Regions from separate parts of the Homo sapiens genome. Here region 2 is linked to region 1. Evidence: fine-mapped expression QTL. A gene starts in region 1. The other region holds a variant in brackets. All regions are shown on one strand. Distances are between the middles of the regions. Region 1 holds the start of MYO1A (myosin IA). Region 2 holds the start of ZBTB39 (zinc finger and BTB domain containing 39).

Region 1 (12,549 bases):
TTCATAAAATATAGAGTTGGGGTCTCACTATATTGCCCAGACTGGTCTTGAACTACTGAGCTCAAGTGATCCTCCCACCTCAGCCTCCCAAAGTCCTGGGATTACAGGCATGGACCACCACACCCAGCATATTAGTGTTTCTTAGTGGGCATTTCCAAATCAGGACACTGAGGCCCAGAACCTTTGTGAAATTGAAAGTCCACATGACTTTTTACTTAATTGAAAGTCCACATGACTTTGAATTAAGTAAGTAGATGATATATCCAGATTGTCTAACTCAAAAGCCAGTGATGTTTCCATGACAACACACTGTTAGAAGGAACTGTACCCTCCCCATCATCCTCCCTACTCTGCTCATCTCAGAAACCAAGATATAGGGCTGGTGACAGGGCAGGAAGGTGAGGCAGACAGGAGAGCATGGAGAAAGCAGAGCGGCCACTTGCCTTGATGCTCTCATTGATTCGATTCACTATCCAGTCAAAGAGGCGGCTGTAGATGTTCTTAGCCAGGGCGTCCCGAGCATACTGAGCCTGTGGGTGAGGCACAGCTGATTAGGGTGGCATCACAGAACAGGGTCGAAACAGCCCCCTCCACTCCAGTGAGCTCCTTACCTGCATAACATTCAGTGCAGTGACCACCTTTTCCTTGGCTGTTTCCATGGTCCTCGAGCACAAAGCTCTCTCTACTTCTTCTGAATTCAAGCCCACCATCTCCCCAATCTCCCGAACACCTGGGATAATGAGAAAGTACAGCATGTCCTTAGAGGCAGCTTTCTCTCAGGGGAGGGAGTGCAATCTGATAAGTGAAACTGCCTGAGACACTGGTGTCCTGGGGTCTCACTGGAGAAGTCATTGCAGCCAACCCAGAACATGGCCCTGGAGGAATCTCAGGGAGTTGGGGGACAGAAGAAAGGGGATCTGGGCATTTTGCATGTATCATCTACTTTAATATGAGAATCTCCTGAATTAGGTGTGATTATCCCCATTCTGCAGAAGAATCAACTCAGACTCAGAGAATTTCCAGACCTAGATATATCAAATTTCAAAAGCTCATTCCAATATGCTTCATCGGGAGTTCTCAGTGAGTCTGTTTAGGGGAGAACTCAGGAGTGGGCTGAGTGGGACTGCATCAGGGTGAGATCAATTATGCTAGAGATGGTAGAAGGACACGACTTGTAGTAGGAAATTCAGGGTCTGGGTAGGAGCTCCAGCAGGCTGGGATGCAGACCTCTCCCATCACGGATGCCACTTGCTGGTATCCCACTGGCCTGGAACTCATCAGCCACCAACACGTTCCCCAGCTTTAGCACCATGGATGTCACCTCTAGCACTTGTCGAATCTCCTCCTCCGAGAACCCAATCACTGCCATTGCACTCTTAGGCAGAAAGCAGAAATCAAAAGCTGAACTGTTGGTGCCAGTCCAATGCGAATAGAGGATGACCTAAGGGCCCAAGCCTGCCTCACCCTGGGCACCCACCTGTACAGCCCTGAAGCTGGAGGCGTCGTCCATGCCATCCACTCTGGATACTTCATGATTCAGATAGGCATAGCCAGTTGTATCCCGCTCAAGCTTCAGGGCCTCTGGGAGGGCCAGTGTTGGGGAAGATGGTTAGTACCCAGGCTCTCTGGAGCCCTCCAGCCTTGACACCTCACAGCCCTTGCCCTAATGGATTCATTCACTTATCCAAAGGAGTCATTTTTGTTTTGGGTTCTTCCCCTGCCTCCTTTGTTTTGGGATCATTAATTCCTGTGATGATAGACTAATTTTTGTTGTTGTTGAGACAGGGTCTCACTCTGTCACACAGGCTGGAGGGCAGTGGTGCGATCTCAGCTCACTGCAAGCACCACCTCCCAGGTTCAAGTGATTCTCATGCCTCAGCCTCCTGTGTAGCTGGGACTATGGGTGCATGCCACCACGCCTGGCTAATTTTGGTATTTTTAGTAGAGATGGGGTTTCTCTATGTTGGCCAGGCTGGTCTTGACTCCTGCACTCAAGCAATCCACCCGCCTCGGCCTCTCAAAGTGCTGGGATTACAGGCATGAGTCACTCGGCCTAACAGACTAAATTTTTAAGTATACTTTTAAGTAGTGTTTAGGGTTTTGATGCTCATATTGATTGGGTTTTCCCCCAACTTTTATGAAACAAAACCCTCATTTTACTCTTCTCCCTACCCTCAGGGTTCTAAACAATAAAAATAAACAAGCAACCCTTCCATCCTACGCAGGTGCCTCTGGACGGTGAAGGTAAGGGGAGAAGGGTAAGCGCATATCTCCTGCCTGCCCCCAGCCTCAACTCTTGGCGTGGGTTGCTCATTCATTGTTTGAACACCAAACACCAATAAAGTGGCAGGTAGCATGTTCCCTGACCCTGACACCTCTTCTGAAAAGTTTTCTCTGATGCTGAGGGCCTGAGCCAAATGGCTGTCTTGCATTCCCCACTGGTGAATCTATATCCCAGCCCATATCATATGGGCTAGGTTTTGTTTTTTTCTGTCTCTCCCATAAATGAGCAACTTGTGGGTTGGGACTGTGTTTCTCATCTCCATATTCTGTGTGCCTTTCTGGCATGCAGGAAATTTTCTCTTTTTAATAAATGAATCAAGTGAATGATCAAAGCTGTTTCCCTAGGATGGGAGGGATTCGGTTAATCATGGAGTTTGAGGGATGTCAATTATCTGGTATGCAAATGATCTGAGAATCAGGGAGTATCCCTCAAACTATAGTCTAATGGCAGCTCCCCCAGCACACAAAGTTTGAAACAAGGGCCTGCTAAGGAGGGTATCTGGAGGGAGAATGAGTCAGAATGTCTGGGGATGATGATACCTGGGAGACCTCATCTAGAGTTGATTTAAACCAATAGATGACAGACCAACCAGAACAAGACACTAATGCCCATGATGCAGACAAGTTGAACATAACCAAAACTATTAAGCCAGGAAAGAGCATGAGATCTGCAGGGGTTCCTGAAGATCACAGAGATCTCCAAGAGTGGAAAAGGAGATAGCACAGGTCTATCATAGAATCACCAGAAACCAAAGAGACATTCTTAGGGGCCAGACACCCACGGTGCTCACAGCCAGAGAGGAGATTGGGAGGCAAACTCCAGTAGGGCTTAAAGTCCACCAGACACTCCAGTGATGCCCACCCAGAGCCACTTCAGGCCAGTCCAGCATCCAGGCTGTGATGGACCCTTCCCCAGGCCAAGCCAAGGGGCTCTAGGTCTTCTGCTCTTATAGCCAGCTGCACAGGCCTGATGGCCCCGATCACACAATATTACAATGGATCTGCTCACACACCTCTTATCCCTAGAAGACTATAAGTTCTTCGAGGACAGGGTCATGTCTTACTCAACTCTGTATCCCTAGAGGCTAGCATAATATTTGATCATAGGTGTTCAAGAGATGTTGAATGAATGAATAAATGAATGAGTGAATGAATGAATGAAAAGAAAATCAGGAACAGGGTCCTAGGTAAGGCAGATGTAGACCCAGGACAGCTTCAACTAGAGTTCACTGAAAGTTCCTGAACACTTACAACATTCTGCCTGCTTCCCTGCTTTAATTAAATCCCCTTAAGTTGAAGGTAGGAAGGAAAGTAGATGGATATAAGTGTTTTATATTTGAAGCCAGCTCAGGGAAAGCAGAACCCAGGCAGGAAAGAGGAACGAGAACAGTGAAGAGGCAAGAAGGCATATCCCTGGCAATAAAACCCCAGAAAAGGAAGAGAACACAGGGGTAAAGGAATTTGTTCCCAACAATGAGTGGGTGAGGCTGAGAATGGGAAATGCAGCAAGGAAAATCTGGGAGGCTCAAGGGAAGAGGGCTGTAGGGGCCCAGAGGGAACAGGGGTTCTGGGACTGAATGGAGGTTGGGGACTTTGCCATGTGTCACTCATGAGGACACTTTCCCCATGCAGGCACATACTCAGCAGCTGTTCATCTGCTCCAGCCAGCAGCTGATAGAAGATGTGGAAGTTCCTTTCTCCTTTGAGCTGCTTCACTAATCGGGATTTCTCAAGCAGATCTGGCAGAGAATTAGAAAAATAATATCCTGAGGGCCTGGGAGATGCCGTAGCTTCTCCAGCCCTACTGGAGAATGCCCCCATCGCCGGCATTCCTAGTGGTTGGGAAGTCTCCTTGACGTCTAACATTCTGCCTTTCTACAGGAACAGATTAGCAGAAAGGGCCATGGGAGGCAGGTGGAAGACAGGTGAGTGGAATTGGGGAGACACGTACAGTTTGTGATGACACCACCGAGGGGGGATCCCTTGAAGTCAAATTCAATATCCATGTATTTTCCCTTCAGAGAGAGACCAGAGAGAGAGACTTAGCTTCTTCCTCTTCTCACCACCCTGCCTGGAAGGGGTCTGTGCCACATTCCTCCCTCTTAAGCCCCCACATCCTCTCTTCCCAGGTGGGGAGACATTTACTCACAAATCGGGAGGAATTGTTGTTGCGAATGGTCTTGGCATTGCCAAAAGCTACAGAGATGAGGAGGGGAGAAGTGAAACTCTAGAGAAGGGAAAGGAGGAAGGGCTTCCAGTCCTCATGACAATCTCAGATTTTTCTGGGTCGAACAAGAGAGGTGATTTTGCAGCACTGGGGAAGAGGGTCTAGGGCTCAGTGATTCTGGGGGTTAGATGGAGGGTGGAGAGGGCAGAGAGCAGAATTCTCACCCTCCAGCACTGGGTTAGACTGTAGCAGCTGCTCCTTCACAGAGTTCACCTGCTCTCCTTTCCCACAGACGGCAGCCACATAAGACATCACCAGCTTGCTGGCCTCTGTGCAGGCAAAACGCTCTCATGGGTCCCCACCCAGGACTAGCCCATCCCCCCACCTCCTTAACTTGCTTCACCCCAGTGCCTCACCACCCCTTGGAGTCAGAAAAAGTGGAAAGGAAGTTCTGTGGGGTGGAGGGTCAGGTCTAGGTCTGGCTTGCAAAGAGACAAGGAAGCAGTTCCAGAGGTGACTCCATGTGTTCCCCCAGCCAGGGGCCTCACCAGTCTTCCCTGATCCACTCTCGCCTGTGATGAGGATACACTGGTCTCGGTCCCTGTCCCTCAGTGACTGGTACGCCACATTTGCCAATGCGTAGCTTGTGGGGAGGAAGTGGGCAATGACTATTGTGAAACCAGTTCAAGACACCATCTTTCACTCAATCTCCAGCACGCAGGTTCATCCACTCTCTCTACTTGGAGCAGACTGGGCAAGATGTGACAGGCCTTGGAAGGGGCCTCCAGAAGGCCAGGGAAGGAAGGGGCAGCTGGAGAAGCCCCTTCAGGGGAAGGGACAAAGGAAATTAGGATGACTCAGTGTCAAGAAGCTGGGGCCCTGTCAGCCTTCCCTTGGTCCCCCTACTCACATATGGGGCTTCAGCTCATAGAAAGTATAGTCTTGATATTTGGCAATGAACTCTGGCCCATAGATGGGAAGCTGTTGATAGGGATTCACTGAGATCACCACATTCCCAATGTAGGTCTGGAGCCAGGAAGAAGGTGAAGGGAATGAGCTTGAGGGTGAGGTGGGAGCCTGTGACCTCTCCAGCCACATATCCACAGCCAGAGGCACCCATATGACACTCACATAAATCTCCTTGTTTTCATAGCGAAGCTGAAGATTCTTGAGCAGTGACTCCTCCACCAAGGGTTCCAGGAGGACAAGATCCTCCACCCCCACAGAACCTTCCAGGAGAGGCATGTCCAGAGGGGCCACTGATCCTGGGAATAAGAGGCACAGTTTGCTGATGTCCACTCAGCTTTAGGGGCCAGTAACTGTTTGAGGGGAGGATGGCAGAAGGACCAAAAGAGCCTTCCTCTCTTCCTACCCTGGCCCTAAAGAGAGCCCCCAACCTAGGAGAGGCCTCTGGACCAGCCCAAGCTAATAGGGAGGCTGAAACTCTCAGCAGGAGGTGGGGGAGATCCTCTGCTGCCTGGGTTACAGTTGGTGGGGGTGGGGCAGGGGTGGAACAGGAACACCTTCCTCTGACCACCAGGGGAAGGCAGGCACCCAGTGGGCTACAACTGGGGGAGCAGAGTTGTGACTGAAGGAGAGAGGGCTGAGGAGGAAAGTGTAAGCAAAGACTTGTGCTGCCGCCAGGTACAGAAAGCCCTCTCTCTCCTACAATGGGCCCTGGCCAGGGTCCAGACTCCCCATCTACCCCCAGTGCTTCTTCTCAACACCTTACCTCTCACAGCCCCTATTAAAGACACCCAACCTACCCATAACCATTTCAGAAGTTCTTCCAAAGGTCTCTCCTTCCCTGTCATTGCTACAGTGAGCTTCATTTTTAAAATGGGAACTTGACAAGGCAGAATTATAGAGGATAGAGGCAGGATTCCTCCATAAGAGATTGGAATTTCCCAAAGAAAATGAAAGTGGGGTTTGCTTCCCCAACAAACAGGCAGTTGTCAGGACCTCTGGATGTGCTACATGTCTGTCTCTATTTTTCCATCTCTAGCTTTTACACCCACTCCTGTAAACTTCTGGCATGGACTTTGCCCCAGAGGGACACACCTAGCTTCTTGCGGGAGTGGGCAAGGAGGAGCACAGTTGGAACTACAGGGAGGGTGGTGGGGCTTGGCCCCCATGCAGTAGGCACATGGCAGGTGTTCCCTAAGGAGGAAACCTGGCCCTCCTCAGTCTTTCCTGTGAGACTGAGTAGGCAGAGTGGCCAGGCACAGGACAGGATTATTAGTACAATGGTCAAGGCCACTCCTGAACAGGAATGAAAGAGACACATCCTCCTATGCTATTGCATCTCTGAACCCGGGTGGAGGAGCGGAGGAAGGAGGAACGGAAGTGGGGCAAGAAGGGGCACAGGCTTCCTTCTCCCTTCACTTGGCTTTCCCCAAGCTCTAGGAAAAGAGAGCACTTGTCACTTACCAGAAGGACACAACTGAGGAAGCAATAAGAATATCAATAATAGCAGTCTCTAGGAATCATGCAGCGTTTACCACGAACTGGGCAGGGCTCTAAGCACTGTACATACACTAATTCATTTAGTGCTTACAATATCCCCATGAAGTAGATACTATTTTTGTATTTTCTAGATTTTACAAAAAGCTAAGTCTTTTAACTAACTTGGCAGGGAAGGGTGAGAAGCAGAAGGTGGGTTGGGAGCAGTCATCTTCTTTGGATTTGGATTTGAAGGGAGTGGGAATGTGACTGGTTGAGGGTGGGGAAGGGAAAAAGGCAAGAGGCCCCAGATGGGGCGCCCCAAGGTGTTAAAGAGAAGCAGTGACAGGTCAAGGCAGGACTCACCCAACACTGGAACTAGGGTATAACTTCACTGTCCTTGGAGAATGGTGGATGAAATCTCAATTTGACAGGAATGGGGCATAAGAGTCCTGGCCCCAGGATGGAGAGGTGGCTTAATGGGAGCTGTCCATGGTGCAAGGAAGCTGGGAAAAAGGCTGCCCTCCTCTTGCCAGTGTCCACTCTTCTGATTTTCCCTTTTGCTGCCTCTTCCAGCCCAGGCTCCCTGTGCCAGTCAAACCAGGAGAGGCCGGAGATGGCTGATCAGCACAAAGTCCAGACTGTTCCTGCTGAGGGTGTGGCTCACTTAACCCTTCACAGGCCTGAAGCCCCAGAGGGAGACACTCAAGCTCCCTCTAGGTAGGAAAGGGTATCTGGCTGGCGTTAGCTGAGAGGCTTAACTAAAGGAGGGTTCTTGCTCCATTGTCTCCCAAATTTGGAAATGAAAGCTGGAAGAATGGAATTTATAGCCAAGGAAAATATTTCCCAAAGAGAAGTCAGGAATTTTGTCAAGGACAGGTAGGGCCAAGTGCGGTTGCTCATGCCTATACTCCCAGCACTTTGGGAGGCCAAGGCGGGAGGATCACTTGAGCCCAGGAGTTCGAGACCAGCCTAGGCAACATGGCGAGACACGTCTTTACAAAGAGTGTCTTCCTAGCAAAAAAACAGTACCTCCCTCATACCTACTCTTCCTATCTTATCGGGAGTCAGGGGATGTTAATGAGATTACTTGGAGAGCTAAGCAGACAAAATCCCCAAATTCTTCTCCACTTCCCTTCCCCCATGAATCAGACCCTATCATAGAGACCCAAAGATTAAAGTGATTAGTAATAATACCTCACATGTGTATAGATGTCCCAGTTTCATTGAACTCCCCCTTGCATTGCCTCACTGAATAGCACCACCCCGAGGAAGGCAATACAGATACTCCATTAAAATGGAAAACTAGGAACAAACACCAGACTCAGAGAGGTTACACAATGTGCCCACAGTTCCATGCTAGTGCATGGCAGAACCAGGAACAGAATGCAGCTCCCTAAGTTTGCCAAAAGTTGCAGCCCAAGTTCTGAAGTTTCTAATTTTAATTCGTCAGCACTAGGATACTGAGTAAGACCCTGAGCTAATGTAATAGCTCCCTCTGATAGATAAGAAGTACCCCTTCATCCAGCCAGGAAAATTCCTAAAAACAGCAAGCCCCCTCTGCCTACCATCCTCTCTCCCAGGCATGCAGAAAGAACAAATTAGGTAATTATAGACACTTAACTGAAGAGAGACTTGATTCTCCAACTCTCAGCTATGGCTGCTTGGTGCAAGGTCCAAACTCTATGGCTCTCACAGAAGCACTCTGCGTAAGCCTGGCACATCAGCAGTTCTATTATCAACCTGCCTTTACATAATTTATTGATCTACTACATATATTTGAAGGTGGAGGGGGGCAAGGAAAAGAGAGAAAGCTGAGTGGAAGTGACATCAAAACATAATGCTATGTGTAGGTGGAGCAGTATCCATGTCCTAGAGGCAGAAGTGACAAATATCACCTATTTACCAGTGGAGGAAACAGATCTAGAGTGAGAAAACCACTTTTCCAGGGTCACACCACTGCAAACCTGGCAGAGCTGGCACCAAAACCCAAGTCTCATGTTCTCTAGGCCAGGAATCTGCAGCCATCTGGGGTTTACCTGCATGTCCACCCATTCAGTCAACTGAGTGCCTACTATGTGCTTACTCACGAGAAAAGTGACTCTAAAATGAGATGGCACTCTCAGGTGTAAGAACAATGACATGAACATCACAGCTAGGGCAACCAACTGTACTGATCCGCCTGTGGGACACAGTGGGGTTCTCTGGACATGGGAATTTGAGTGTTAAAACTAGGAAAGTCCCAGGCAAACTGGAGCCAGTGGGTCAGCCTAAATTAACAAGATATGAAATACACATCCAAGTCAGCTGGGATTTTCTAATCTCCTGCTTTCTAGGCAAAACTGAAGCAACCAGAGCGTATTAGTCTTCCTCTACTTTGACTCCTAAATCACCTTCCTTTTTCCCCCATTAACATTTCTAGACCATGGAAGGGGCAAGAGGGAACTTTTTGGGGTTACAGAAATGGTCTATATCCTGATTGTGGTAGTGGTTATACAACTGTCTCCATTTGTCAAAACTCAGCAAATTTGTACACTTAAAACTGGCAAATTATATTGTTATGTAAATCGTACTTCAATAAAACTGGCAAAAAAAAAAAAAAAATTCTAGGCTGGGTGCAGTGGCTCACGCCTGTAATCCTAACACTTTGAGAGGCTGAGCCGGGCCGATCACTTCAGGCCAAGAGCTCGAAACCAGCCTGGCCAACATGGTGAAACCCCGTCTCTACTAAAAATACAAAAAAGATTAGCCCGGGCATGGTGGCGGGTGCCTGTAATCCCAGCTACTCAGGAGACTAAGGCAGGAGAATCGCTTGAACCCGGGTGGTGGAGGTTGCAGTGAGCCGAGATCACGCCATTGTACTCCAGCCTGGACAACAAGAGCAAAACTCCGTCTCAAAAAAAAAAAAAAAAAATTCCAAATCATTTGGTGCTGATTTCTGACAAATTGGGAAGGCAGCAATCTGATTAAGCCAATTCACTCATTAATCTTCCCACAGGTACTAACTTTTAAAAAGATGTTACACAATAAAAAGGCAGCTATTTTCAGATATGGTGAGGAAGACATTTGGTGGTAGAGGGTCTTCTCGGCTCTCATAAACTATCTGGTACTAATAACATTTATCATACTTAGACTGGACTAAGATGTGCCAGGCAACAAGCTAAGTGCTTTACATCATTGCTATTCAAAATGAGGTCCACAGACCAGCACCATCTGATCAACTGGGAGCTTACCAGAAATCCAGAATCTTTGGAAGGCTGAATTGGGAGGTCTGCTTGAACCCAAGAGTTCCAGGCTGCACTGAGCTATGAGTGTGCCACTGCACTCCACTCCAGCCTGGGCAACAGAGCAAGATCCTGTCTCTTAAAAAAAAAAATAAATGCAGATTCTTGGGCACCACTGAAGATTTAGTGAATCAGAATCTGCATTTTAACAAGATCCCCAGGTGATTCCCATGCACTTTAAAGTTGGAGAACTGCTTTACCCAACTTACCATGTTTTTTTTTAAATTATACTTTAAATTCTAGGGTACATGTGCACAACATGCAGGTTACATATGTATACATGTGCCATGTTGGTGTGGTGCACCCAGTAACTCATCATTTAACATTAGGTATATCTCCAAATGCTATCCCTCCCCCCTCCCCACATCCCACAACAGGCCCCAATGTGTGATGTTCCCCTTCCTGTGTCCATGTGTTCTCATTGTTCAATTCCCACCTATCAGTGAGAACATGCAGTGTTTGGTTTTTTGTCCTTGCGATCGTTCGCTGAGAATGATGGTTTCCAGCTTCATCCATGTCCCTACAAAGGACATAAACTCATCATTTTTTATGGCTGCATAGTATTCCATGGTGTATATGTGTCACATTTTCTTAATCCAGTCTATCATTGTTGGACATTTGGGTTGATTCCAAGTCTTTGCTATTGTGTATAGTGCCGCAATAAACATACATGTGCATGTGTCTTTATAGCAGCATGATTTATAATCCTTTGGGTATATACCCAGTAATGGGATTGCTGGGTCAAATGGTATTTCTAGTTCTAGATCCCTGAGGAATCGCCACACTGACTTCCACAATGGTTGAACTAGTTTACAGTCCCATCAACGGTGTAAAAGTGTTCCTATTTCTCCACATCCTCTCCAGCACCTGCTGTTTCCTGACTTGTTAATGATCGCCATTCTAACTGGTGTGAGATGGTATCTCATTGTGGTTTTGATTTGTATTTCTCTGGTGGCCAGGAGGGATTAAAGACTTAAATGTTAGACCTAAAACCATAAAAACCCTAGAATAAAACCTAGGCAATACCATTCAGGACATAGGCATGGGCAAGGACTTCATGTCTAAAACACCAAAAGCAATGGCAACAAAAGCCAAAATTGACAAATGGGATCGAATAAAACTAAAGAGCTTCTGCACAGCAAAAGAAACTACCATCCGAGTGAACAGGCAACCTACAGAATGGGAGAAAATTCTTGCAATCTACTCATCTGACAAAGGGCTAATATCCAGAATCTACAATGAACTCCAACAAATTAACAAGAAAAAAACAAACAACCCCATCAAAGAGTGGGCGAAAGATATGAACAGACACTTCTCAAAAGAAGACATTTATGCAGCCAAAACTTACACATGAAAAAATGCTCATCACTTACCATGTTTTTTTATCCTCACTATAACTCTATGATGTACATCTAGCAATTATGCTTTAAGTTTTTATTAGTTCAACCATTAACGATCACCTATGTCTCTTATTTACCTAGTGGTAGTTATGGAAGGAAGAGGAGAAAAGATGTCATTAGTGTACATTAACATAAATTTACTTATGTTCTACATCCTGTTTTCTTCCTACTTTGCCAACTTTCTGTCTTAAAAAAAATAGACAATGGATTTCCATGTAGTCCAAATAACTGAGATGAACTTTGGGAGGCTGAGGTGGGCAGATCACCTGAGGTCAGGAGTTCAAGACCAGCATGGCCAACATGGTGAAACCCCATCTCTACTTAAAAAATACAAAAAGCCGGGCATGGTGGTGGGGGCCTGTAATCCCAGCTACTAAGGAGACTGAGGCAGGGAGAATTGCTTTAACCCAGGAGGCGGAGGTTACAGTGAGCCAAGATCCCGCCTCTGCACTCCAGCCTGGGTGACAGAGTGAAACTCCATCTCAAAAAACAAAACAAAACAAATAATAATGATAATAAATAGGCAGGGTGCAGTGGCTCATGCCTGTAATCCCAGCACTTTGGGAGGCCAAGGCGGGCAGATCATTTGAGATCAGGAGTTCAAGACCAGCCTGGCCAACGTGGTGAAACCCCATCTCTACTAAAACTACAAAAATTATCAGGGTGTGGTGGCAGGTGCCTGTAATCCAGCTACTCGGGAGGCTGAGGCAGGAGAATCACTTGAACCCGGGAAGCAGAGATTGCAGTGAGCCGAGATCATGCCACTGCACTCCAGCCTGGGCAACAGGAAGAGACTGTCTCAAATAATAATAATAATAATTAATTAATGAGATGAAAAAACATAGGTACAGAGTTAATATGAATATTACAAAGGATTCCCAGAGCAAAGAAGGTAGCCAATACATAAAATGAAAGGTACCAGACTCCTATGGTAGAAGCTGGGCCTAGACATAATTTAAGTTTTTATTCAATA
Region 2 (12,549 bases), 39 kb before region 1:
AAAAGAGACCCAGCTTCCCTGGCAGGGGATCGTTGGGGTGGACAATGATGTTGTTCTCAAATATTCCATCCCGTCGGTGAAGGGTCAGCTGCCACTGGGTAAAGAACTTAGTTTCACACATGTCGCAGGAGAAAAGGAAAATACCAATGTGGGACAGGACATGAGTTACCCGGGAGTTTCGGTCCTGGAAGTGGGTCTCGCAGACCTTGCAGTTGCCCGTCAGCAGGTCCACATGGTCCCGAGCATGCTGCCGGATCAGTTGAATGTTGGGCTCTAGAACTTTCTTGCACACCTGGCAGGGCATGGCCTTATTCTCCCGATTGTCATTCTCTCCAAAAGCCAACTCATCCTCACTGTCATCACTCAGCTCAATCACCTCCTCAGTTGTGCCTATATCCTCAGCAGGGTCTTCAAACTGCAAGTCATCATCCCCCAGGTCCTCGAGCTGGAGCTCATCCATCTGCCCAAAGCCAGGATCTTTGGAGTGCTCACTATTGCTCAGACAGGAGTTGGTCCCAGTGGTAATGTCTACTGCATTGTCAGGGGTGAGGAAGCTGTTTTTACTGAAGTCTCCATTGCTTTGAACTTTGTATGGCTGGCAGGAGCTCGTGCTGGTCTGGATGCCCGTGCTGACAGTGCCTAGGAGTGGCTGGGTCATCATGCTAGGAATGGACGTGAAGGGAGCAGGGGTGTCATGGTCTTCTGTCTTTGGCGGTGGTGGGGGCGGTTGCGGCAGATGCAGGCTATGGTTAGCGTCACTGGCAACATTCTTCTCTTCCTCTTTATAGCTCCCTCCAGCATCACTGGGCAACACATAGTTTCTATCAGCACCAAGGTAGTCCCCACCACCTCGGAGTTCTCCAAGGGGATGGGCAGGTTCTGCCGAAGGACAACTCAGGGTACCAGAGTGGCTCTCACTGGTGCTGGTCAGGGGCTTGGCCCTGGCAGTGCTCTCCAGATCAGGAAAGGTAGAGTGACAGGCCTGGAGGAGGTCCTCCATACCCAGACGCTCAGCTACCTCGTAGATGACCCCAACATTGATCAGGTCTGTGAAGAGTTCTGAAGTGTAGACAAAGCTCAGAACCTTCTCAAAGTTGGCAGGGGTGATGAAGTCCACCACATAGGTCCTGGCAGCATCAAGCCCAGTATTCAGGAAGAGGTTCTGGAAGTAGCCAGCTGCACAGGCCAGCACAGCCTTGTGGGCCGGGAAGGAGCGGCTCCCCACCACAATGGTGACGTCGCACATGGTCTCTGAGAGCCGGCACTTGTTGAGTTCCTTCAGCAGGTTGTTGGGGTGGTTGGTGCTTTGCAGTTTGATCCTCATGCCCATCTTAGCAGCTCCTATGAAATTACCTCCTTATCAGCACAGTTAATCTGTGGATAGCAAGAGAAAAAGATGGATGGCCAAACACATCCGTGCAAAAGAGGGGCTATGCAGGAGAAAATACCATCACTCTGAATGCTTCCAAGCCCCAGGTAGGGATCAGGAGTAAACTGGCATGGAGAGTTCCTCCATTATGACAAGGCAATGACATCTCCCCCTGTATATACTCAAAGAGTTATGACAAAAACCAAAACGACTGATGACAATCTGATAGCTTGGTTTTAAGCTGGTGCCTAGAGACGAACCAGAGGCATTCCCTTGGACACAATCTTATACTTCATTACCAGAGCCACTGGATCAAATTTTTCTCCTATTAATTTCCTCCCAAATACAAGCTTTCCTAATTCATTGAGCATATTCTTTTCCCTCATGATGCCAAATACCATGCACATGCTTGAACACAACTATCAAAGCTCCACTAGCTACTGAGGAACATATAAGGTGGTTCCGTTTTTTAGCTTTGTCATTGCTGTGTCTTCAACCTCTCAATAATCTCCAAATAAATCTCACGTTCTTGAATCCCCATCTCTCTCTGCCTATACTACATACCCGCTCTCTGGCCTTTCGATAACCCAGAGCCCCTCCAGATATTGCTTTATCACAGTCCCTGTATTCTGTGAAGTTAAAACACTCAGAATGCACAGTAAGAAAAGTAGAACACAACTGTGGTAGTATTTAATATTACTTTAATATGTTGTATTCTTTTTCGCCACCCTTTTCGGGGTTTATATTTTGTTGTCCCTGCACTAACAGATTTACTTGATGCCGCAAGAAAGACTTCTAATTATACAGGTAAGACTCCTAGAGGCTTGTTCACTACCACTTTCTGCCCTTTCTGACTCCTGCACGACTAAGGAAGAAGAGCTACTTGCATCCCTGTTCAGTCTCACAACTCTGCCCAACACAGCCCCTTTCTCCATCTCTCCAGATTCTAACAACTCCCAACTTTTTCTGGGGCCCAGGAAGCGTCTAAGTATTGTGGGGTACCGGCCAAGCATCTCCCGGGCCCTGGTGGCCACCCCTGAACGATGGGCGGGTCGGAGCACTGGGCAGCCAGAGGAGAGGGTGGGAGAGGGGGAAGCTGGGAACTTCCAAGGACACCCCAACAATCCCCGGGCGCCGCGGTCTCCCCTCCGGAGTCGCATCTGGGAGGGAAGGGCGCTGCATCGGCTGGGGCGCTCCCTCTGGAGGCAACGAGCGCCTCAGTCCCTCCACAAACAGCGCGGGGCTCACCCGGGTGAGCCTGTTGGGGGCATGGGGCTGAATAAGGGGCCAAGCGAGGGGCGGCGGGGCCGGCCGGGGTCGGCGCGCGGGCGGGGAGGATGGGTCCGGCCGAAGGGAGCGGGCAAGAGGGACCCCAGCAAGAGCGAGATAAATGCCGGGCCGAAGGTCGGGCTTCGGCCAGGGGCAGCCCTCGGCCTGGCCGCGCTTACCCGGCTCTGCGGCGCCCCGAGCACCATCGCCGCCGCCGCTTCACACAAAGGCCCCGGCCCGCCGTGCCCGGCCCGACGAGGAGGCGGCGCCGCCGGCCGCGGCCAGACTCTCCATCCGCCGCGCGGCTCGCCGCGACGGCCCGGGCCGCCCCCGCCGCCCGGCCCGCAGCGCCCCCCGCCGTCCCGGAGGAGGCAGCGCCCCCCGCCGCCCGGCCGCAGCGCCCCCCGCCGCCCGGGAGGAGGCAGCGCCCCCCCACGGCGGGGCCGGGTCCAGGACCTGCGCGAGGGGTGCAGGGGCTTCCAAGTCCCCAGGCTGGCTTTTTCTAAGCGCCCATCCACTGTGCGCGGGACTTGGTGCCTGAAGAGTGAAAAACCCTATCCAAACTCTCTTCACCTCCCCTGTTCTACGCTCACAGTTCCAAAAGCTTCTCCTCAGAACATCTACTATGGGCATTTTACAAAATGTTGTAAGATTGTTTGATTACTATATATCTCCTCCACTAGGCTGTGGGCTTCCTGAAGGCAGGGATCTGTGGCTTTGCACACGGCCGCAGGTCCACACTGACCCTTACCACACTTCCTGGCACAATAAGTGCTTAATACATTAAGCCTGCTTGAATGAATGAAGGAGCACTTGAGGGCTAGACCGCTACTACTGGACCCTTCTGATAATCCACTGCTGTCCCTCCTTCCATCTAGGTGGCCAAATGAAGAAAGTCACCGGATCTCACTGTACTTTGGCACCCCAGGCCTGCTTCCTGAAGCCTGCCCTCCCCAACTCTGTGTAGAACTCGATCACTCTTCCTCCCCACCCTTCTCCCAAATCATCTTTTCAAATGCTTCTGCCCAAGAATTGTCATCAAACGAAAACCACCTACACTGCCTGCCCCACCCACCACCACCAAAGACATTAGAAGTCTTCGTCATGTCGCCCTCCCTCCCTCAGTACAGAGGAAGCTCTTAGGCTCCAAGACCCTTCAGTTTCATCCTCTCTCCCATCCCATCCCAGTCACTGCCTGAAAATAGCTTGCAGCCAAGGACAAACTCCCAGGACAGGCGCATGGTAGGATTCAGTAATTCCTTGATGGATAAGTGGAAAGGAAGGGACACACTGAATGTTGCCAACAGATCTAAGCCAGTTTGGCCATTCAGCAATTGTCCATTCTCTTGATGAATTTGGGAGATTGTGTGTCCTCCTTTCCACAACCTCATTAACTGGTGGCAGACTATACTGAAAGCAAGCACTATACCAAATGCTGCCAAACATGTAACATTTGTTAGCCAGGAGATACAAAAACAGCCATAGAACTGTTCTTATAGTTTGGGGATGAGGCATCTCACTTTACCATCTAGTGAAAGGGTCACTTAGAGGTTGACACAATGTTTCAGTGGCAGGCCCAGCTCTCACAGTTGTGCAAGGTGACTGAGTCTCCCTAAAGTGGAATATCACACAGCCAGCAGGTCCAGACCTCCAGCATGACTCTGGAGACAGAGGGCTGCTGGGCTTGCAAGGGCCTGGGCCTATACAGTCTTTCTAACCAACTGCCCCAGCCATCTCTGGAGGGTTGACCCCAATAAACTTCACATGAAAACAAATCATCCAAAAGACGCAGGTGAAAGTATATACCACTTATACTGAAGTCTTTTTAAAGTAAATCACCATATAGTCACAATAACAAACATATACAAAGTTAAATGGAGAAGAAAGGGCCAGGAATTTAGTCAAGGTCTTGTGGACCAGATCTCTTTAGGCATCAACTGTTTTACAACAGGAAAGGGAGGGTCAGGATCCCTTCACACATTCTTCAAGTACAAACACAGGAATCTAACTTAACATTTGTCTTCATTTTTTTCTGGAGTCCCCAGTACTGCAATTTTTGTCAGTCCCACTAGAGAGCAATCTTTCTGCACTTAATGTTCCTACTTGCAAAGCAATTGTCTCATCTCAGCCTATAAGCCTAACTCCCACCAAGTCTGAGCAGAACCAACTCTTGTAGCTTTCATGACCCAGAGAAAGCCCCTAGACTCTGCAAAAGTGTCCCCAGTTTTAAGCCCTATAGATAGATAATTTTGAAAAGTCAAAGAGATGACTCACTGGAAAAAGGGTCTAGGCTCTGGGGTGGGGGCATTCTTTGACCTCTGGCTATAAAGCTGACATAAGTAATACTAGGGTGAGTATTCCCTCCTTTCCCCGCCCCCCACTATACAGCTGTCATTCCAAAGTGGCCCCAAGTCAGGCTGTAGGAAGATAGAATTTTCACTAGAATGAAAGGACTGCAGGAAGTGGCCTCTGGCTCTGTGGCCCTGTCCTTACACTGCCTTGGGAAATCTATGTGTTGATGTTTTATCAGTGCAATTCAGGGGCATAACAAAGGCCCCTGTACCACGCTAAGATAAGGAGCCTGAGGATTTCACTGGCTGTTCCATTAGGGTACAGAACCCCCCTTAGGATGGCGGGTGATAGTTGACATCATAGATTAGTAAAAGACATCCATACCCATGCATACCACATGTAAGTGCCTTACACATTCTGGGGACTGTTAAGTCAGAGCTGCAGGAGCTGGTAACAGGCACTTTAGAGAGGAGTGGGAGATAAATGTTTTCCCTTTATAATAACTAAGGCAGCCAGTTAACGGTGAAGATATCTGCTCCTCTCTTTCTTGGCCTCGGTAGTAACTTCCCTGTCCACATCCCATCCTAGCTGGATCAAGTTCTGTTTGCTTGTCCACAGCCCTGCTAAACTGTAAACTCTGTGTATGAGTCATCATTTCATCCCCAGGATCTGTCACAGAACCCAGGCTCAGCATTTGGAGACAAAAAAATTGTATAGGGTCATAGATTTGTCCTCCTCTGTGGCTGGGTCTCCGGACAGCCTTGATCCCCACCTCCTTCTCTAATTAAGTAGGGTCAGATTCAGGAATGAATATCTCCCAGACCCATCCTAGTAATACAAGTCATTCTGAATATTTTTTTTCTTTTTCTTTTTCTTTTTTTATTGTTTTTTTTGTTTGTTTGTTTTGTTTTGAGACGGAGTTTTTTGCTCTTGTTGCCCAGGCTGGAGTGCAGTGGCGTGATCTCGGCTCACTGCAACCCCTGCCTCCTGGGTTCAAACGATTCTCCTGCCTCAGCCTCCCAAGTAGCTGGAATTACA[G/A]GCATGCGCCACCATGCCTGGCTAATTTTTGTATTTTTAGTAGAGAAGGGGTTTCACCATGTTGGTCAGGCTGGTCTCGACCTCCTGACCTCGTGATCCACCCGCCTCGGCCTCCCAAAGTGCTGGGATTACAGGCGTGAGCCACCGGGCCCGGCCTGTTTTTTCTTTATCTAAAACTGGTCTGTAAAAATCTTTGTGTGTTAGAAACCATCTTCCAAATTCGTGTATTTATTTTAATCACTAAATAAATCTGATACTCATCGTGCAAAGCACTGTGTAAGGCACTGTTCAGGAAATAGATATATACAAAAAGATATGTAAAGTTATTTACATTTAAATATGAAGTGTGTGTATCATAAGTATGTGTGTATTTACCATGTAGCTGGAGGAGTCAAGGAACAGAAAAACCCACCAACCAAACAAGTAAACACACACACCACATCATTCATATGCAAAAATCCTTTATTGTTGAGGAATAGAGAGAGACATTATATTTTTAATGTAGGACACTACAGGAACTCTAGGGTATTCTACAGTCAATGCCCATTGGGGTTGGGGATATTCACTATGCAGTTTCCACACCAGGGTCAGGTAGAAAAGATGGAGAAGGAGTCAAAGCACAAGAATGTTACAAGAACAGGGAAGAGAAAGGGTAACAGGAGCGTGCGCACCTGGGGATTGGGACAGGGAAAGAGGTCTTCCTAATGCAGTCCAGGAGTCCGGAAGTGGAGTACTGAGGACAAAAAACAAAACAAAACAAAAAAAAACACTGAAATCACATCTTATATCCTGTAAAAAAGTCCCACTGAAAACCTGCTGTGGCAGCAGGAGAGAAGGGGAGAGGCGTCTGTGAGAGAGGAAAGAACAAGTCTTGACCCTCAGCCTGCCCTCCAGGCTTTGGGCCTGAGGATGGAACTCTCCTAGCCGCAGGTACTTGCACCTTCCCAGCTGCCATATTTACATTACTCTACACACCTGTGTGCATGGCCAGTGGGGCCCATGTGGACCAAAGATGTAGGAACCAAGTTCATGCCATCCTAGCACCACCATGAGCCAGACACACACACAGCCCTGCCCAAGGTGCCCTACTATGAATGCTCCCCCTGCCTTATCCAGTTCCTCCTCTTCCCAGAAACCTCCCAGAGGAAGCACAGGCCCAGGGATTACTTACAGTTTCACATGAATGAAATCAGATGACACAATGATCTGTGTTGATCCATCTCATCTAATCTTTAAATGCCAGCTCCCAGAAACCTTATGTCCTATTCTGCCTGACACCTAACAGGTTGGGAATGCTCCCTCAATGGTAAGATTATGAAAGCTGCAATTATGGGTCCCTCTGAAAGAGCCTGGATGCACAAACAAGCATTAAAAGTAGATTTCCACAATGCACTTGTTTTTGCCATTTGTATAAAATACTATAGCAAAATTGCACTGTAATTATCTTTATGGCCAGTGCATAACGCTGGAGCAGAGTATGTCATCCAGATATAGCTGCTCGTATAATTATCTGGCCGTCGGCAGGACTGAAATAACCATCTAATGAGAGCAAAATGATACAGTAACTACCATGTAATCAGCAAGTTACAGTTATTATAGCTCTTTGTGCCCTCTCACCCAACACTAAATGGGGGGCCAGACTCAGTCTCTGGTCCCAGGAATTCATGCACAGGCAGCATCATCAAGCACCAGCTCCTTGGGTCTTGGGCGTGCCACCTTGAGACCAGTGAGTATGGGTAACAGGGACACAGAGAGAAAAGCAGGAGGCTCTCCATGATTACGAGCCTTCCCAATCTCTCTCCCTCTCCTTTTCACTCCCTCCACCCCAATTCTTTGGAAGCTAGTGAAAAGAAAGCCATTGGTGGAGCTGCTCTTGCTGTGTGTGGGAAGACAGTGTCAAGGCGGAAGGTTCGTGTTTTGACTAGACACTTCCCTGGGGGACTCTTACACTCGCATACCAAGTGAGGAATTTGTCAGCCCACTCAGGCCTGGGGTCCAGACAGAGCCAGTCAGGGGAAACATTAGGACATCCCCCATACCTCCCAAACTGGGACAATTATCATAAAATTGGCACACAGCACTGTGCACCCGGCACTGTTCTGAACACTTTACCTATACTCAATCCTCAAAACCACAACCCTGTGAGATACTATTATCACTTTCATTTTTCAGATGAGGAAACTGAAGCACAGGAGGATATGTACCTTGGCCAAAAAGATACAGATAGAGTGGCAGATCCAGGATTCACATTCAGGCCATTGTTCTTATTCATTATGCTAAAGAGAGATTCAGATATGGTTTCCTGCTAATCCCCATTAGATTTCAGAGTTCCTTGCATTTCTTCCTGAATCATCCTTGTGTATGACTACCTTCTGGGCCCCGTAACCCAGGATTCTGAGTGATTTGAAAGGCTCAGCCTGCCTGGGAGGCAAATGCTTGCCTGTGAATTGGTTGTGGTATTTGTAATTATCAGATAATAATTTCTCCATCTTTTTGCATAGATTACAAAAGAATGAAGTCCAAACAACAGAAATTGCCCATCGGGGAAGCCCCTCTCTCCTCATCTCCCAACACTCACTCCTGCTCAATAGTCAGCTGCCGTCCATGATCCAGAGGAAAGAGATGAAAGACGGGGGATGTGTACAAACACACGTGCCTCTAAGTGTCTTTGTGTTTGGCCGACAGTGTGCTGGGCATTGGCAGTGTATTTCAGGGCAAATCTATGAGCTTTAATACCTGTAGCATGGGAGGAAATGCACAGCTGGCAACCCCCACAGCCCCCTCCCCAGTCCCCTCTCCCCTCTCTAATGAACAATCCTTACCCTATTCTGCTCTCGGGGGATACTTGAGGATGCCAAAGCTGGGGACGTTCTCTTGATTCACATCCGTAGGAGAGTCTAGGGTAAAGCGAACAGTGTAAGTAAGAGGGATCTTTCTGAATGTGAACTACACCCTGATCCAACAGCAAAGGGCTGGCTATGACGGGCAGTGTTCAAAGACAGAGTTGGGAGACTGGGGTGGAAGCAGAGTCTCCCTATCCTTCCTCCCAGCTGCAACAGGACTACCTTATAAAGGTCTCTGCTCCTCTGTTCCCAGGGAAGACTTTCCTGTGGATCCAAGCTGATTGGGATGAAGGGGCCGAGGAACCCTCACTGAAGGTAAGAAAGGTCCTGTCTTTCCCTCTGGTGACAAATATGAGGCACGTGACTTCTGTCATACTCTGCCAGTACCCTAAGCCCTTCCACTGTACCTCCACACACTCCTACCTGGCTGGACGCTCCTCTTGCCCATAAGTCCCACAAAGAAGTCATGCATGTCACCTGCAGAAAAGGGCCAACATTGTCAGCAGTGATGATGAGAAAGTGAAGCATCTCCCCAGACATGGGTCAACACTTCTGAGACTGGGTTTCTGGTCTCTGTTCCTTTTTCTTGTCAAAGCATGACTCCTCACAGTTAGCAAGTGCCTCCCCTAAACCCACTCTCTCTGCTCACCTTTCCTTCCTCCACATTTCAAGAATTTTCTGCTCTAGCAGGTGCCTGATTTGGAATTTTCAGGGCCACGAAGAGATCCCCTTGTTTTCCAAGGACCAGCCAGCAGAGGGAGAGCCCACCATGCCCCTCACACCAGCTTCCTCCTAGTTCTGGATGGCCTCTCCCTTTCAGGAAAGGTTGGCTGAGCAGTGGGAGCTGGCATATTGTTTGTACCAGGTGAGAAGGGGCTGGACAAAATGGCCCCTGGGCCCAATGCCCCACAGAGCTCTGGGCAAGTGGCAAGAGATAGGGAGGGAGAAGAGGGTACTTACGTTTCTCGGGAGATGTTGATTCCTTAGGATCTGTGAAACCAAGAACAGATGTCTAAATGGGGAGTGAAGTTGGAAAGTGATGAGAGCGGGGTTCAGATCACAACCCTCACCGATTCACTAAGCTATCCCCCATCTCTCTCCCATCTGAAAGGATCTCCCAGGCCTCTTATCTTCAGAATCCTGCCCCTCATTCCCCTCTCCCCTAGGGCCGCCTCCTACCTGTGCTAGCCTGGCTCAGGGCTTTGAGCAATCCCTCCAGAGATGAGTGGCTTTTGAAGAGTCTCTGGAGCAGCTGGTAGAGATCTGGATCCCTCTAGGGAAGAAACAAAGAGGGGTGAGGCAGGAGGCTCCCACCCGGATCCACTCATCCTTTTCCCACAAGAAACAGCCTCTTCCTGAGCCCATCCTGAATCCGACACCCTATTTCTTTCAGAGTTTCCTCTGGTTCACACTGGACGAGAAGTAGGTGCTCCAGGAGTGACCTGTGGACCAACAGCAACACCAGCACTACACAGAGCCTGTTAGAAATGCAGACTCTTGTTCCTACCCCAGACCTCCTGAGACAGAATCTGCATTTTAAGCAGCCCCCCAGGTGATTCACATGCATGGTGAGATTGGAGGCACACATCTGCACCTGTGATTCCCCCACTCTGCACGATGTCCATGGATGTTTCTCTCCCTGTTTTCCACCACCTCTTTCTCTATTCTCCATGGCTTTCCGCCTCTAGTTTTCTCTCCCTCTCCCTTTTGGCCCTAGGTCTAGAATTCCAGGAAGGCAACATGCTCAGAAGGCACGTCTTCTTCTCTCCACAACTGAATCCCAAGTTCTAGAGCTGTTGCCCAGCACGGGCTCTTGATTGTCCCTGTGATTTTTTTTTTTTTTTTAGCAACTTGCGTACAGCAGGGTGGTGGGCACACACCACACAGCCAGTTAATTGCAGCTGCAGAGAGACAATAACAATGATCATGGCTGGAGATTTTCATCTCAAATCTCAAGTCTCAGCAGCGCCTCTCTTTCCAGAACCCAGGCATCCTTCGGCTGTTGTGCACACACAGAAGTGCATTTACACAGAACACACCCCCACACATACCAACCCAGTTGCCTAGGCACACCTATGTACTACCCTCTTCCTGCCCCAATTTCCCTCATCCTCACAGACTCTCAAGGAGAAGGGGTAGGATGGCAATCCCTCTCATTCATTGACCAAGAGGGGCAGAGGGGACATCTCATTGGCCAAGGTCTTGAAACAAGTTTGTCTCAGAAGAACTCAGATACTCTAACTATCCTGGGCTGGAACTTTGTGGCTCCAAACGGTGTCCAGCCCATACTTGGCACTCCCCTGGGTGTTTTTTTTTTTAACGGTTCTGGCCTTTTGGATATGGCACAACTGCTGCCACCTGCAAGGCTGCCCTGGTGATAACTCCCTTGGCCCAGCATGTGGTGTTCAGGCAGCCACTTTTCCCAAATTGTTGAATACTCTGCCCACCTCCTATAATGAGATGCTGAACAGATTTGAGCTGAAGAGGCAGTTAAACTTCACACATTGAATTTGTAATAAGTCCCACCCGCAATCATCTTAAAAGCATTTGTACCGATGTAATTGCTGTCATTTCAAAACCTTGAAAAGACTTCCTCCCTATCCTCCCCCTGTACCCCTACCCTGACAATTCCTATTCTTTTTCGTAAAGGAACTGTGGAAATCGAGGCTCAATCTGGTTTTTTTGCTGTTGTTGTTTTCCTATCCTGACTAAGCAGAGGATAGAGGCGGGCAAGGGAGAAAAGAGAAGAAGGAAGGGGTTGGGATCTTAGAAGCACCTGAGGTTACTGGGGGTGGATGAGCAAAAGATAAGGGAATTTATTTGCATTTTGAAAATAAAACAATACACATAACTGATAGGTAAAATAGCACACAAATAACCATTTGGGAAAGAAATTCTGACTGTTTCATACCATCCAGGAAATAGAAGAGATCTGTCCCTTGCAAAGGGACCTGAGGTAGACTATAGAGAGCCTTAGACCACCCTAGCTCACCCCTCACAGTACCATCCAATCACCAAGTCTCCCATCAATCAACCCACCAAACAACATATTTGTAGGGCACCTTTTATGTACAAGGTGTCAAAGACATGCAGAGATACAGAGACACAAACACACCTGGAGACAGTGGGAACATGAAAGGACCAGAGAAACAAAGAAATCCAAAGGGAGGCAAAATGCCCTCTGACGGACAACCCCCCCACCCCAGTTTCCTCACTACAGCTGTCCAGACAGGCAGAGTCCCAAGTTCCCGTGATGTCCCCAGTACTCTGCCAGGGGAGACTTACCTTGCTGCGGCCCCCGCCAGGAACCACCTCCTCCTGTGGCTCCTTACAGACAGCCCCAAAGCTCTGAGCTAGGCTGAAGGCCAGGATGGCTGTGAATAGCAGCATGATCCTCATGGTGCCTGGGAGAGCAAAGGGACAGGACTCAGGTAAAGGAGAGAAGAGGAAGATACAGCATGGGTGAAGACACAAGAGACATTCATTACCAGCAGCTTGGCTTGACCCTGCTTCCCCAGCCCCCAACTCCACTGTCCAAGCCCTGGTCTGGAGAGAGGGTGGAAAGTATTTCTGAGAAGGGGGTACAGCCCTTGGGCTTAGTTTCCCTGCTACCCCATCAGATATCTCCCCAGGAGATGTGCAATGCTATAGTGGTGCCAGGAGGACTCTAGCTCCCAAGAAAGATGATAGATTTGTAGGACATGGACTGGTCTGTTTCCTCAGTCAGCTGGAGGAGGG

The links.
Region 2: its variant is fine-mapped to the expression of MYO1A in whole blood (TOPMed, PIP above 0.99).

The regions. Positions count from the first base shown.
Region 1 is chr12:57,042,629-57,055,177 of GRCh38, forward strand. MYO1A (myosin IA) reads right to left here and starts at 7,501. Exons shown (of 28, transcript NM_005379.4): 1 at 7,259-7,501; 2 at 5,582-5,715; 3 at 5,361-5,476; 4 at 4,999-5,093; 5 at 4,675-4,779; 6 at 4,433-4,479; 7 at 4,235-4,298; 8 at 3,924-4,022; 9 at 1,478-1,581; 10 at 1,228-1,375; 11 at 612-730; 12 at 444-530. The coding sequence starts at 5,695. RefSeq lists an enhancer at 4,223-5,422.
Region 2 is chr12:57,003,588-57,016,136 of GRCh38, forward strand. ZBTB39 (zinc finger and BTB domain containing 39) reads right to left here and starts at 2,959. Exons shown (of 2, transcript NM_014830.3): 1 at 2,818-2,959; 2 at 1-1,374. The coding sequence starts at 1,330. It overlaps TAC3 (tachykinin precursor 3), which reads right to left. Exons shown (of 7, transcript NM_013251.4): 2 at 12,097-12,215; 3 at 9,991-10,084; 4 at 9,772-9,801; 5 at 9,235-9,288; 6 at 8,791-8,865; 7 at 6,413-6,701. The coding sequence starts at 12,210. The coding sequence ends at 8,792. RefSeq lists silencers at 2,628-2,777, 2,798-3,157. The variant G/A (reference allele first, on the strand shown) is at 5,969.